Homo sapiens: one gene and its partners. The protein of the gene in region 2 interacts with the protein of the main gene of each other region in a biochemical or structural test. Each region holds a gene or a part of one and is shown on either strand. Other genes may lie near its edges.

Region 1 (3,649 bases), on a different chromosome or scaffold from region 2:
CATTCTCCTGTCTCAGCCTCCCGAGTAGCTGGGACTACAGGCGCCCACCACCACGCCTGGCTAATTTTTTGTATTTTTAGTAGAGACGGGGTTTCACCATGTTAGTCAGGATGGTCTCGATCTCCTGACCTCGTGATTCGCCTGCCTCGGCCTCCCAAAGTGCTGGGATTACAGGTGTGAGCCACCGCGCCCAGCCCCGTAAATTTTTAATAAACGGTATTCAAGGGCCAGGCGCGGTGGTGGCTCACACCTGGAATCCCAGCACTTTGGGAGGCCGAGGCGGGCGAATCACGAGGTCAGGAGATCAAGACCAACCTGACTAAAGCAGTGAAACCCCGTCTCTACTAAAAATACAAAAACTAGCCGTGCATGGTGGCACTTGCCTGTAGTCCCAGCTACTCAGGCGGCTGAGGGAGGAGAATCGCTTGAACCCAGGAGGCGCAGGCTGTAGCGAACCCAGATCGCGATCGTGCCACCGCACTCCAGCCTGGGTGCACTCCAGCCTGGGTGACAGAGCGAGACTCACTCTCAAAAAATATAAAATAAAATAAACTTTGAAATAGACCTGCTATGTACCCACAAAAATTAAAAATTAAAACTCTGGCCGGATGCAGTGACTCATGCCTGTAATCCCAGCACTTTAGGAGGGCAAGGTGGACAGATCACTTGAGGTCAGGAGTTCAAGACCAGCCTGGCCAACATAGTGAAACCCCGTCTCTACTAAAAATACAAAAATGAGCCAGGCATGGTGGTGCATGCCTATAATCCCAGCTGCTTGGGAGGCTGAGGCAGGAGAATGGCTTGAATCCGGGAGGCGGAGGTTGCAGTGAGCCGAAAGTGCGCCACTGCACTCAAGCCTGGGTGACAAAGCGAGACTCCGTCTCAAACGAGAAAAAAAAAAATACTTCAAGTGTATCTTACAAAACTGACAAAATACATTGTACTTATCCGCAAGGTAACTTCATAATCTTTAATAAGCACAGGTTTCCTAAAGGAGTCATATAATGTACTGCACTTTTTTTGTACACGGTAAAGCAACATAAAAAAATAATGACCGGCTGTGCACGGAGGATCACACCCATAATCTCAGAACTTTGGGAGGCCGCGGCGGGTGGACCACTTGAGGTCAGGAGTTTGAGACGAGCCTGGCCAACATGGCCAAACTCCATCTCTACTAAAAAAATACAAAAACTACCCAGGCAGAGTGGCACACACCTGTAATTCCAGCTACTCAGGAGGCTGAGGCAGGAAAATTGCTTGAACCCAGGAGACAGAGGTTGCAGCAAGCCAAGAGCGTGCCACGCACTCCAGCCTGGGTGACCCAGTGAGACTGTCTCAAAAATAATAACTACAATCTGTATTTTACAGATTAACTAAACAATGCCAAACTCTATAGCTGAAAAAGACAATGTCCTTGAAAAAGGCTGTTCAGATGGAACCAAATCAACATTTCAGGTAAATATACATATATATGTAAACATATATGTAAATATATAGATGTAAATATATATATATTTTTTCTTTTTTTTAAACCGAGTTTTGATCTTGTTGCCCAGGCTGAAGTAAAATGGCGCGATCTCAGCTCAGCACAACCTCCGCCTCCCGGGTTCAAGCAATTCTCCTCCCTTAGCCTACCGAGTACCTGGGATTACAGGCATGCGTCACCACATCTGGCTAATTTTGTATTTTTAGTAGAGATGGGGTTTCTCCATGTTGGCCAGGCTGGTCTCGAACTCCCAACCTCAGATGATCCGCCTGCCTCGGTCTCCCAAAGTGCTGGGATTATAGGCGTGAGCCACTACACCTGGCCTCAGGTAAATATTTATTTTTTTTTTTTTGAGAGAGTCTTGCTCTGTCACCTAGGCTGGAGTGCAGTGGCGTAATCTCGGCTCACTTGCAGCCTCTGCCCACCGGGTTCCAGCGATTCTCCTGCCTCAGCCTCCTGGGTAGCTGGGATTACAGGCGCACGCCACCACGCCTGGCTAATTTTTGTATTTTTGGTAGAGACGGGGTTGCACCATGTTGGCCAGGCTGGTCTCAAACTCCCGACCTCAGGTGATCTGCCCGCCTTGGCCTCCCAAAGTGCTGGGATTACAGGCGTGAGACACCATGCCCGGCCTATATTTTTAATAACTACAGTGAATATAGGCCGGGTGCAGTGGCTCATGACTGTAATCCCAGTACTTTGGGAGGACGAGGTTAGAGGACTACTTTGAGTCCAGAAATTTGAGACCAGTCTGGGCAACACAGTAAGACCCTGTCTCTATTTATGTATTTATTTTTTGAGACACTTTCGCTCTGTAGCCTAGGCTGGAGTGCAATGGCCCGATCTCAGCTCACTACAACCTCCACCTCCCAGGTTTGAGTGATTCTCCTGCCTCAGTCTCCTGAGTAGCTGGGACTACAGTCATGTGCCACCACACCCGGCTAATTTTTGCATTTTTAGTAGAGCAGAAGTTTCACCACATTGGCCAGGCTGGTCTCGAACTCCTGACCTCAGGTGATCCACCGGCCTCGGTCTCCCAAGGTGCTGGGATTACAGGTGTGAGCCACAGCCCCCAGTCTCAGTCCAATTTTTAATAAACTATAAAATATTTAATTCTGATTAGATTTTTTTTCCAAATCATCCTACCAAATTACCAAACATGAAAATGCATGTAGGCCAGGCACAGTGGCTCATGCCTGTAATCCCAGTACTTTGGGAGGCTGAGGCTGGCGGATCACCTGAGGTCAGGAGTTCAAGCCCAGCCTGGCCAACATGGTGAAACCCCAGCTCTACTAAAAATAACAAAAATTAGCAGAGCGTGGTGGCGGGTGCCTGTAATCCCAGCTACTCAAGAGGCTGGGGTAGAAGAATCACTTCAACTTGGGAGGCCGAGGTCACACCACTGCACTCCAGCTTGGGCAGAAGAGCGAGACTCCATCTCAAAAAAAAAAAACAAAAAACAAAAAACAAAAAAAACACTGACTCCTAATTAAGAAATTTTAATTTCTATGTCATAAACAATTAATCTGGTTTTTTTTTGTTTTTGTTTTTTGTTTTGTTTTGTTTCGTTTTGTTTTGAGACAAGGTCTCGCTCTGTTGCCCAGGCTGGAGTGCAATGGTGCCAACACAGTTCACCGCAGCCTCGACCTCCTAGGCTCAAGTGATCCTCCAAGGACCCTGCCTCAGCCAAGTAGCTGGGACTACACGTGCATGCCACCACAACTGATGTATTTTTTTGTTTTGTTTTGTTTTGAGACAGGGTCTCATCATGTTGCCCAAGCTGGTCTCCAAATCCTGGGCTCAAATGAACCTCCCACCTGGAATTCCCAAGTGCTGGGATTACGGACGCAAGCCACTGCACCTGGCCCAATTAATCTTTTGATCAAAAAAAGTCTATTATATTTTATTTAAGAAAACAAAAATTTATTAGTCTCAAAATATTTCAAGTAAGAGTCAGTGTGGGCCAAGTGTGGTGGCTCACACTTGTAAGCCCTGCACTTTGGGAGGCTGAGGCAGGCAGAGAGCCCAGGAGTTCGAGACCAGCCTGGGCAACACTGCAAAACCCTGCCTCTACTGATAATACAAAAAATTAACCAGGTGTGGTGGTTCGTGCCTGTAGTCCCAGGTACTCAGGAGGCTGAGGTGGGAGAATCACCTGAGCCC
Region 2 (3,749 bases):
GAAGCCATAAGCGCCACTGTCTGCCCAGTCATGTCCCCGGGTCCCCTGCATCTGGCCACACCCCTTTACTCAGCCTGGGCTGGGACTAGGATGAACAAAGTGAGGCCCCTAGGGCACAAAATTTAAGGAGGCACTCACTCTCAGAGGCCAGCCAAGTCCAAGTCCCGCCCTCTGCAACCCTTCTTCCCCTGTAACTACAGCGGGCGCCGCGCCCTTTCTCATGTCCGGGGCCCCGCCCCCTCACCTGTGTGCGTGCGCAGATGCGCCTTCAGGTGGGAGCTCTTGGTGTAGCTCTTGCCGCAACCCGGGTGCGCGCACGTGTGCGCTGCCTGCCTCTTGCGCGCCCACGAACGTCGGCCTCGCTTGGATGGCGCGGTCTCGGCTATCACACCTGGATCCTCTGCAGTCCCCCCGAGTCCAGTGCCCACCGTCCCGGGTCCCAAACAACTCAGGAAGGAGGGGGACGTGGCGGGACCGGGCGCGGGTCCCTGGAGCCCGCGGAAGAGCTGGAAGTGCCCTTGGTACTGAGGCGCCGGGTACATCGCGGGGTACCCGGACAGTAGCCCGTAGGGGGCGCCCGACGCCGCAGGCACTGAAAGCCCGGTCCGCGGGAAGTAGCCACCCGAGGAGCCGGCGCCGGGCCCCGGGTACACCGGTTGCAGCGCCAGCGCCTTGGGCTCGGGGGCCGGGGCTGGAGCCAGGGCTGGGCCCACGAAGGCGTCGGGAGCCCGGGCTCGCAGGGCAGGGCGCACCCAACCCGAGTGATCCTCCGAACCCAAAAGCCCAGCCACCAGCCCCGGGCCGCCAGCATATGCGCCCAGAGTCTCGGGCGGCGGCGGATATTGCGCCCCGGAGGCCTCGCTGGGCGCCAGAGCGCAGGTCTGGGGCGCGCCACCGGGCTCCGGGCCCGAGAAGTTGGTGAGGAGGAGATCCAGGTCCCAGGTGGCGTCCGCGCCCCTCTCATCGTCCTCTTCCTCCCCGGGCTGGTCCTCAGACTTCACGTGGAGGGGCGGCTCCGTGGGGTCAGGAGGACCCGGGCCCATGTCCTGCGCCTCTTCGGAGCGCCACCACTGCGGGAGGGAGCAGGCAGCTCGAGGTTCGGTGGACACTGGGGTGCCCTGCCCAGGGACATCGCGGGCTGGACACTCTGACGCAGAGGCTTTGGAAAGGGGTCTTGTTTGCCTGTCTGTCTGTCCCACTTCCCCAACACTGCCCCTCTAACCGCCCCTCTCCCCGCTCCCCCCCCAGCTCCAGGGACAGAAACCGATCAGGTCTGGCTGGAGACAGGAGATAAGACTTCCACTATCTGGAACCACACTCGGGGATGGGGGAAGGGGTAGCAGAGCTGCTGGAGATGGAAAACTGGCAGGGGACGGGGGAGAGGATGCCAGCCTTGACTTAGTTTTCCCCCAGAACATCCCTCTCCTTCCCTGTCTCCCAAAACAAGATTAATTCCGAAATTTTGGATGTCCCCCAGACACACTCATCATTTCCCGCTGATATCTGGAAGATTGTCTGTGAGCCTAGATCTCGTTCCTTTTTTTTTTTTTTTTTCTTGAGATAGGGTCTTACTCTTTTGCCCAGGCTGGAGTGCAGTGGTGCAGCTCACTGTATCCTTAATCTCCTGGGCTCTAATGATCCTCCTGCATCAGCCTACGGAGTACCTGGGACTACAGGCACACGCCCCCATGCCTGGCCTAATGTTTTTGGTATTTTTTGTAGAGATAGGGTTTCACCATGTTGCCCAGGCTACCTTCGTTTTCTATTACCGAAATAGATCACACTTAGAACCTCAAACCCCTAGACCACCCTCCTCACCCCCTGCCAGACTAAGCTGAGATCTCCTCTCCTGGACTGAGCGTACCTCAGTCCTGGTTAAGTCTCTTGATTTCAGGTCAAGATGCAGGTCTGGACCCCAAGATCTGTGACTGTGGCCCTGGATTCCAGCCAGCCCACCTAGACCCCACCTTCTAGGCCCCACCTTGAGGAAGTCATCCTGTGTGTCCGGGAAGGGGCCCAGGGCGGTCAGTGTGCTGATGGAGGGCAAGGCGGTCTCGGCTGTGGCCATGGCTGGCTGGTGCCCACCCTGGGCCTCAAGCCTCCTCTTCCTCGGCTGCCTCGTGAACTCTGAGGCTGTGATAGCCCCTTCGAGGGCTCCTCTCTGTCCTTAGCTGATTGGCTGCAGCCTCTGATAAGGCAAAGCAAGGCAAGGCGGCGGGGGGGCACTGTTTCTGGGGCACAAACTTCACGTTGGCCTGTCTGGGGCTGGGGTTAAAGACTAACCCTGTGTCCAAAGCCAAGTCAAATATCAAGGGTTGGGGGGTTCAGGGTTTGAGGGTCCAGGTGCTGGGTAAAAACAGACATTGGGTCTCCAAAGAAGGAGAGACTTGGGGGTCTTCCCTCAGTTAACTTTCCTGGAAAAGGCAGAAAGGGTATTCTGGGAAGAAGCTGTGGGACCCCCTGTCCCCCTGATTGAGGCTCCACAGCCCTCCCCCTCCCCAGTAAACAGCAACAACCGTGCTGATGGCGGGACTTGGCACGAGCTCCCCGCCAAGCATTATCAGACACCCCAGACGTTGGAGGCTGCTATCAGGTGGGGGCCCAGGCCAGCTAGAGCTCTGTCCTCCGGTGAAGGGGAGGGCTGGGAGTTGGGTCTTCAAATTAGCCTGGCGTTCAATTTGCCTGGGTTGGGACCTCCCAGGGTCTCAGCCCTGCAGCAGGAGGAAGCCCCTGACAACTGGCCCACCATTGTCTACTGGGGACCCTTGGGTGGCACTGCATGGGACTGCATGGAGGCTGGTTCAGTGCCAGCTGCTTTAGTGCGATGGGGGCAGCCAAGGGAAAAGTGACCCTCTCTCCTCCTGGGTGGGATAGGACCGTTGGATCAAGCCACAGGCAGTACCTGACCTGCAGGAGACCAGTGCCCTGGCTCTGGGCCTGGCTGCTCCTTGATTCTGCCCAACATGAGGAGAGGATCTGAGTTTCTACAACAGGAACCTCCACTCTGGTGCCCTGGGAGCCTGGGAAGGGGACATGGATACGTATTACAGACACATAACTCATAGTCACTCATTGGAAGACTGAGGCAGGAGGATCACTTGACACCAGGATTTCAAGACCAGCCTGGGCAACATAAAACCTATCTCTCCAACAAAAAGCTGTGAGTGGTGGTGCATGCCCATAGTCCCAGCTACTCAGGAGGCTGAGGTGGGAGGATTGCCTGAGCCCAGGAGGTCGGGACTGCACTGAACTATAATCACACCACTGCAGTCCAGCCTGGGGCACAGAAAGCAAGACTCTGTCGCTGGAAAAAAAAAAAAGTTGGGTGGCCATCTTTATTCCTGGCAGATCAACCTGGGTGACACAAACAAAAACAAGGCCAGGTGCGGTGGTTCACACCTGTAACCCCAGCACTTTGGGAAGCCAAGGTGGGGAGATCACTTGAGGTCAGGAGTTCGAGACCAGACTGGCCAACAGGATGAAGCCCTCTCTCTGCTAAAAATACAAAAATTAGCTGGGCATTGTGGCACATGCTTGTAATCCCAGCTATTTGGGAGGCTGAGCTGGAGAACTGGTTGAAACTTGGAGGCATGGGGCCAGGCGCAGTAGCTCACGCTAGTAATCCCAGCACTTTGGGAGGCCGAGGCAGGCAGATCACCTGAGGCCAGGAGTTCGAGACAAACCTGGCCAACACAGTGAAACCCTGTCTACTAAAAATATAAAAATAGGCCGGGGATGGTGGCATACAC
Region 3 (3,649 bases), on a different chromosome or scaffold from region 2:
ACACTGTCGCTGAAGGGACAGTGGATTCCAAAGATGGGGAGTTAAAGGTCCACAGAACGATGGCGAGCAAACAGAGCTCACCAACCCAGAGCCAGCCAGTCCAGGAAAAGCAGGTCCCAGAGTTGCTGTCTAAGGATCTGAACTTGCGAAGGGGGCTTAAAATCATCAAGCCCCTGCCCAAAGCTAAACTCCTGCAAGACTCGCAGCTGCCTTGGCCATTCACAACAAATAGCATCTCAAGGCTGCCCTGTCTTTGCACAGGGCTGCTAGAATGCTCTTACGTAGTGTGAGCCCAAACCTGTGTTCCTGTGATCCTAGCACCATCTTTTCAGGCCCCAGGACAATCCTTCCATACTTAGGGGTAGCACTGATATTGATATACCACCTGGCCTGGATTCCCAGCAGGGCACTCAGGCTGAGGTTACCAGCAGGACTAAAATAATTCCATTCTTCTGCTCTGTGTATATTTCATATCAAATGAAATTCATATCAGACTGATGGGCGCTTGGTGCTAGAGTACCTCATACTAGATAAATCTCTTGGACAACTGCCTGCTTTCTTTCTTAAGCTCGCCCTTTCCAAAGCTCTTTTCCTTTTCTTGGCTGTACCAGAAGAAAGCCTCCAATGGATCCTAACACACCTGCACCTTTGGCTGCTCTTCCTTATCAAGGAAGTGTGCAGATAGCAGCCCTGTCAAATGGGGTTAGGGTGTGCCAGAGTATCCCAAGATTAAGAGGAAGCTAATATGTAAATTATTTTCAACACCTTAAATCCAAAAGCCTTGAATCTAGAGTTTCCTGGAGGAATTTTAAATAATCACTTAGGAAAACACCAGCCAGGGCACCACCCATCTCTATCTATTTTCAAATTGGAATAGTTTCTGGAAAGGCGGTCTCATGGGAAGAGTGTAACCAGCCTCTGCCAGACCCCTCCAGGTCACAGCTCTCTACTTTTCTCCATTTCTCGTCTTACTTCCTTTGACACTTCAGGATTGGGTCTGCCCCTCACAGGGTCTGTAGGAGCCCACGTGACCTTGGCAACACTACAGGCCCCACGATGCTGCTCCGGCGGCATCTGCCCAACACGAACGGGCAGCACTGACTTCCTCTCCCTGGGTTGGCTCCATGCCAAGCTTCCTCCCAGCCCTGGGTACTTGGGCGGCACTTACTTTCCCTGAGGTAACTGAGGTGTGACAACAGCACTTCCGTGTTGTAGAGGGTGGTGGCGCGGAGGAAGTCCTCCTTGTTCATTTTACACAGTTCCTTGCCATCCATGTTCTGGAAAAAGGATGTGTCGATCTCCATCAAGCTGTACTCCTTTATGGCCCACTCCAGCCATTGCCTCACATGCTCCTGTGTCCACAGTGTGGGGTCTGCAGAGGAGAAGACGTTGTTAGCAAGGACTGCAGGAAGGTAGAGGCTCCCTGAGAGCCTAGGCAGCCTCCCTCACCCCTTGTCCCTCTTTCTTTCCCTTCTCTTTCTCTCTGGGAGAGCTCCCTTCCACATGGTTCCCCTAGAACACTCATCAGGCTCCATGGCATCTGGCGCTGCCTGAACCACTTAGCACTCCAGGGAGGTGCTTAGCTGCCTCACTACGTATCCTGACAGAGCACTCTTTAAAGTTTTGGAGAGCAGTTGGAACCTTTGCCTGAGAAATGGTGGCATCAAAATGAAAATAAACACAATTTCACAGACCCCGGGACCAATGTCTCTGGAAACGGGAACCATCTGTATTTTAAGAATATTAATGATTTCATGAAAGAACACGGATCCCTCAGATGGCTGTAGAAAAGAAACAGAGAGACTTTTACTGCAATTCCATCTGTGCAGTTGAAAAACCCAGCGGTGTTAGTCTTGAACAGAAACCCAAACTAGATTTTTCTCCTTTTGAGCACAGCTGTGTAGAAATTTCTACCAGGGCATCCCCAAAACATATTTTAGATATTTAAATACCCAAAGATGAGAGATGACGTTGGGGAGAACATTTTAGCTCTTGAGTGAACACAGGTAAGGTAACCACTGAGGCCATCTCTATGGTAGGACACTCATACCTCCTCCTCCTTCTCAGTGTGTGTATGTGTGTGTGTGTGTGTGTGTGTGTGTGTGTGTGTGTGTGTGTGTGTGTGGTGGGGATGTTGCACTTTCAGCACAAGTGATGAGTTCCAGCAGGTTCCACAGTAGGCAGAACTCTTTTATCACTCATCACAGTCTGAAGCCCATCTCTTCACTTGGCAACCAATGGTTAGTGGGTCCAATAAACACCTTAAATATCCTTATCATAGAAGAAAATTACATGACGCTTGCCTTCAAGAAATACTCATTCCCATGAAACAGGTAGGCAAGCACACCACTACTAAGCAATGGACTGTGTGGCGGTGGTTCGAGGACTCATAAGTGGAAGGGAATAGTGAAAATTTGGAGAGTCAAGGAAGACTTCCTGGGGGAGGAGAGACTCGGCATTTTATTGTAAGTCGGCCATTAGCCTCCGGCTTCTAATGAGCCTGTTTGATTTAACATATTTATTAGGCAGGAATATCTGTGCTACCCCTCAAGCAACTCACCCTCTCATTCTACAGCGTCTGTGAAGGCTCCTGGCAAAGCAGGGAACCAGGATTGAATGACTAGGAGTGGATGTGGGGCAAGAAGCAAGGCTCACGCTTCACAGCTGGGCAGCCAGAGGCAAGTTTCCCAGCACTTTTACACAAGCATCCACCAACTGTCCTTGGACTCTCCATTCCACCTTGGTTTTTATGTGTGAGAATCTGGGTGGCAGGGCCCGAGTAGTCTGCTTTGTAAAGTGCCCAGGCCCTGCCCATGCACGAGAGTGGCTGCTGTGTTGTGCTGAAGGTGGAGGAGCTGGCAAAGGGGAGGAGTTAGGAGAGTTTGGGTTCACAGGTCACAGCCTGCTGCTGAATGTCATTCCAACAACCTAATGCCCTGTGAGCAGTGACGGCTCAGATGGTGGGTGCTATGTGCCACCTGCTCCGCGAGCCCTATTTTTACTTACCAAGGAAATCTTTTAATATCCCCATTTTACAGATGCAAAATGGAGTCTTAAAAGGTTAAGTCCTTTGCCCAAAGCCCCATCGCTGGTAAGTATCTGGGCTGGGGTTCCAATAGAAACCATTATAGGACTTCACTAAGCTGAAGAGGTGGGTTCCCCCAAAGCCCCTTTCCTCTTCTCACCATCCTGCTTTACCTCACCTGTGAGTTACACTGCTCTGAAGCCAGAAAGCGGAGCTCCTCTAAAGTGTCATTGTACAAGTATGTCTTCCTCTCTCTCTCTCAGATACATTTCTTGCTCTTTTACTCTCCAGAAGCAATTAGGCATGGATCATTGGCAAATGGAAATAATTTTGCACCTTTTCAGAATTCTAGAGAAACATATCCTCGGGAGAGTTGGATTATGTAGCATATTATTTCATTCTTCACTTCTCCCAGTTCCTCACTTTTAGTATCCAAGGCCTCAAATTCAATTTTACACCATATATTTTATTTATTTTATTATTTCCTCCCTTGCTTTGGGCTCTGCAACAATATTATTACTCTCCCTCTACAGCACAATGAATTATAAATCTTCAACTCTGGATCATGCTAAACTCTTCCAAATGCATTTCCTGGATGATTTAGTCCTAGTTTCTTCCCATCTG

The links.
Region 1: the proteins of KLF1 (region 2) and SMARCC1 form a complex in vitro, tested with the Homo sapiens proteins (one study listed by BioGRID).
Region 3: the proteins of KLF1 (region 2) and FLI1 form a complex in vitro, tested with the Homo sapiens proteins (one study listed by BioGRID).

What each region holds. Positions count from the first base shown.
Region 1 is NC_000003.12:47,775,264-47,778,912, forward strand, and holds part of SMARCC1 (SWI/SNF complex subunit SMARCC1), read right to left. Parts: intron 1-3,649. UniProt on the Homo sapiens protein: Involved in transcriptional activation and repression of select genes by chromatin remodeling (alteration of DNA-nucleosome topology).
Region 2 is NC_000019.10:12,885,073-12,888,821, forward strand, and holds the start of KLF1 (Krueppel-like factor 1), read right to left. Parts: upstream 2,130-3,749; 5' UTR 2,069-2,129; coding exon 1,982-2,068; intron 1,071-1,981; coding exon 245-1,070; intron 1-244. UniProt on the Homo sapiens protein: Transcription regulator of erythrocyte development that probably serves as a general switch factor during erythropoiesis. Is a dual regulator of fetal-to-adult globin switching.
Region 3 is NC_000011.10:128,770,505-128,774,153, reverse strand, and holds part of FLI1 (Friend leukemia integration 1 transcription factor), read right to left. Parts: intron 1,373-3,649; coding exon 1,169-1,372; intron 1-1,168. UniProt on the Homo sapiens protein: Sequence-specific transcriptional activator. Recognizes the DNA sequence 5'-C[CA]GGAAGT-3'.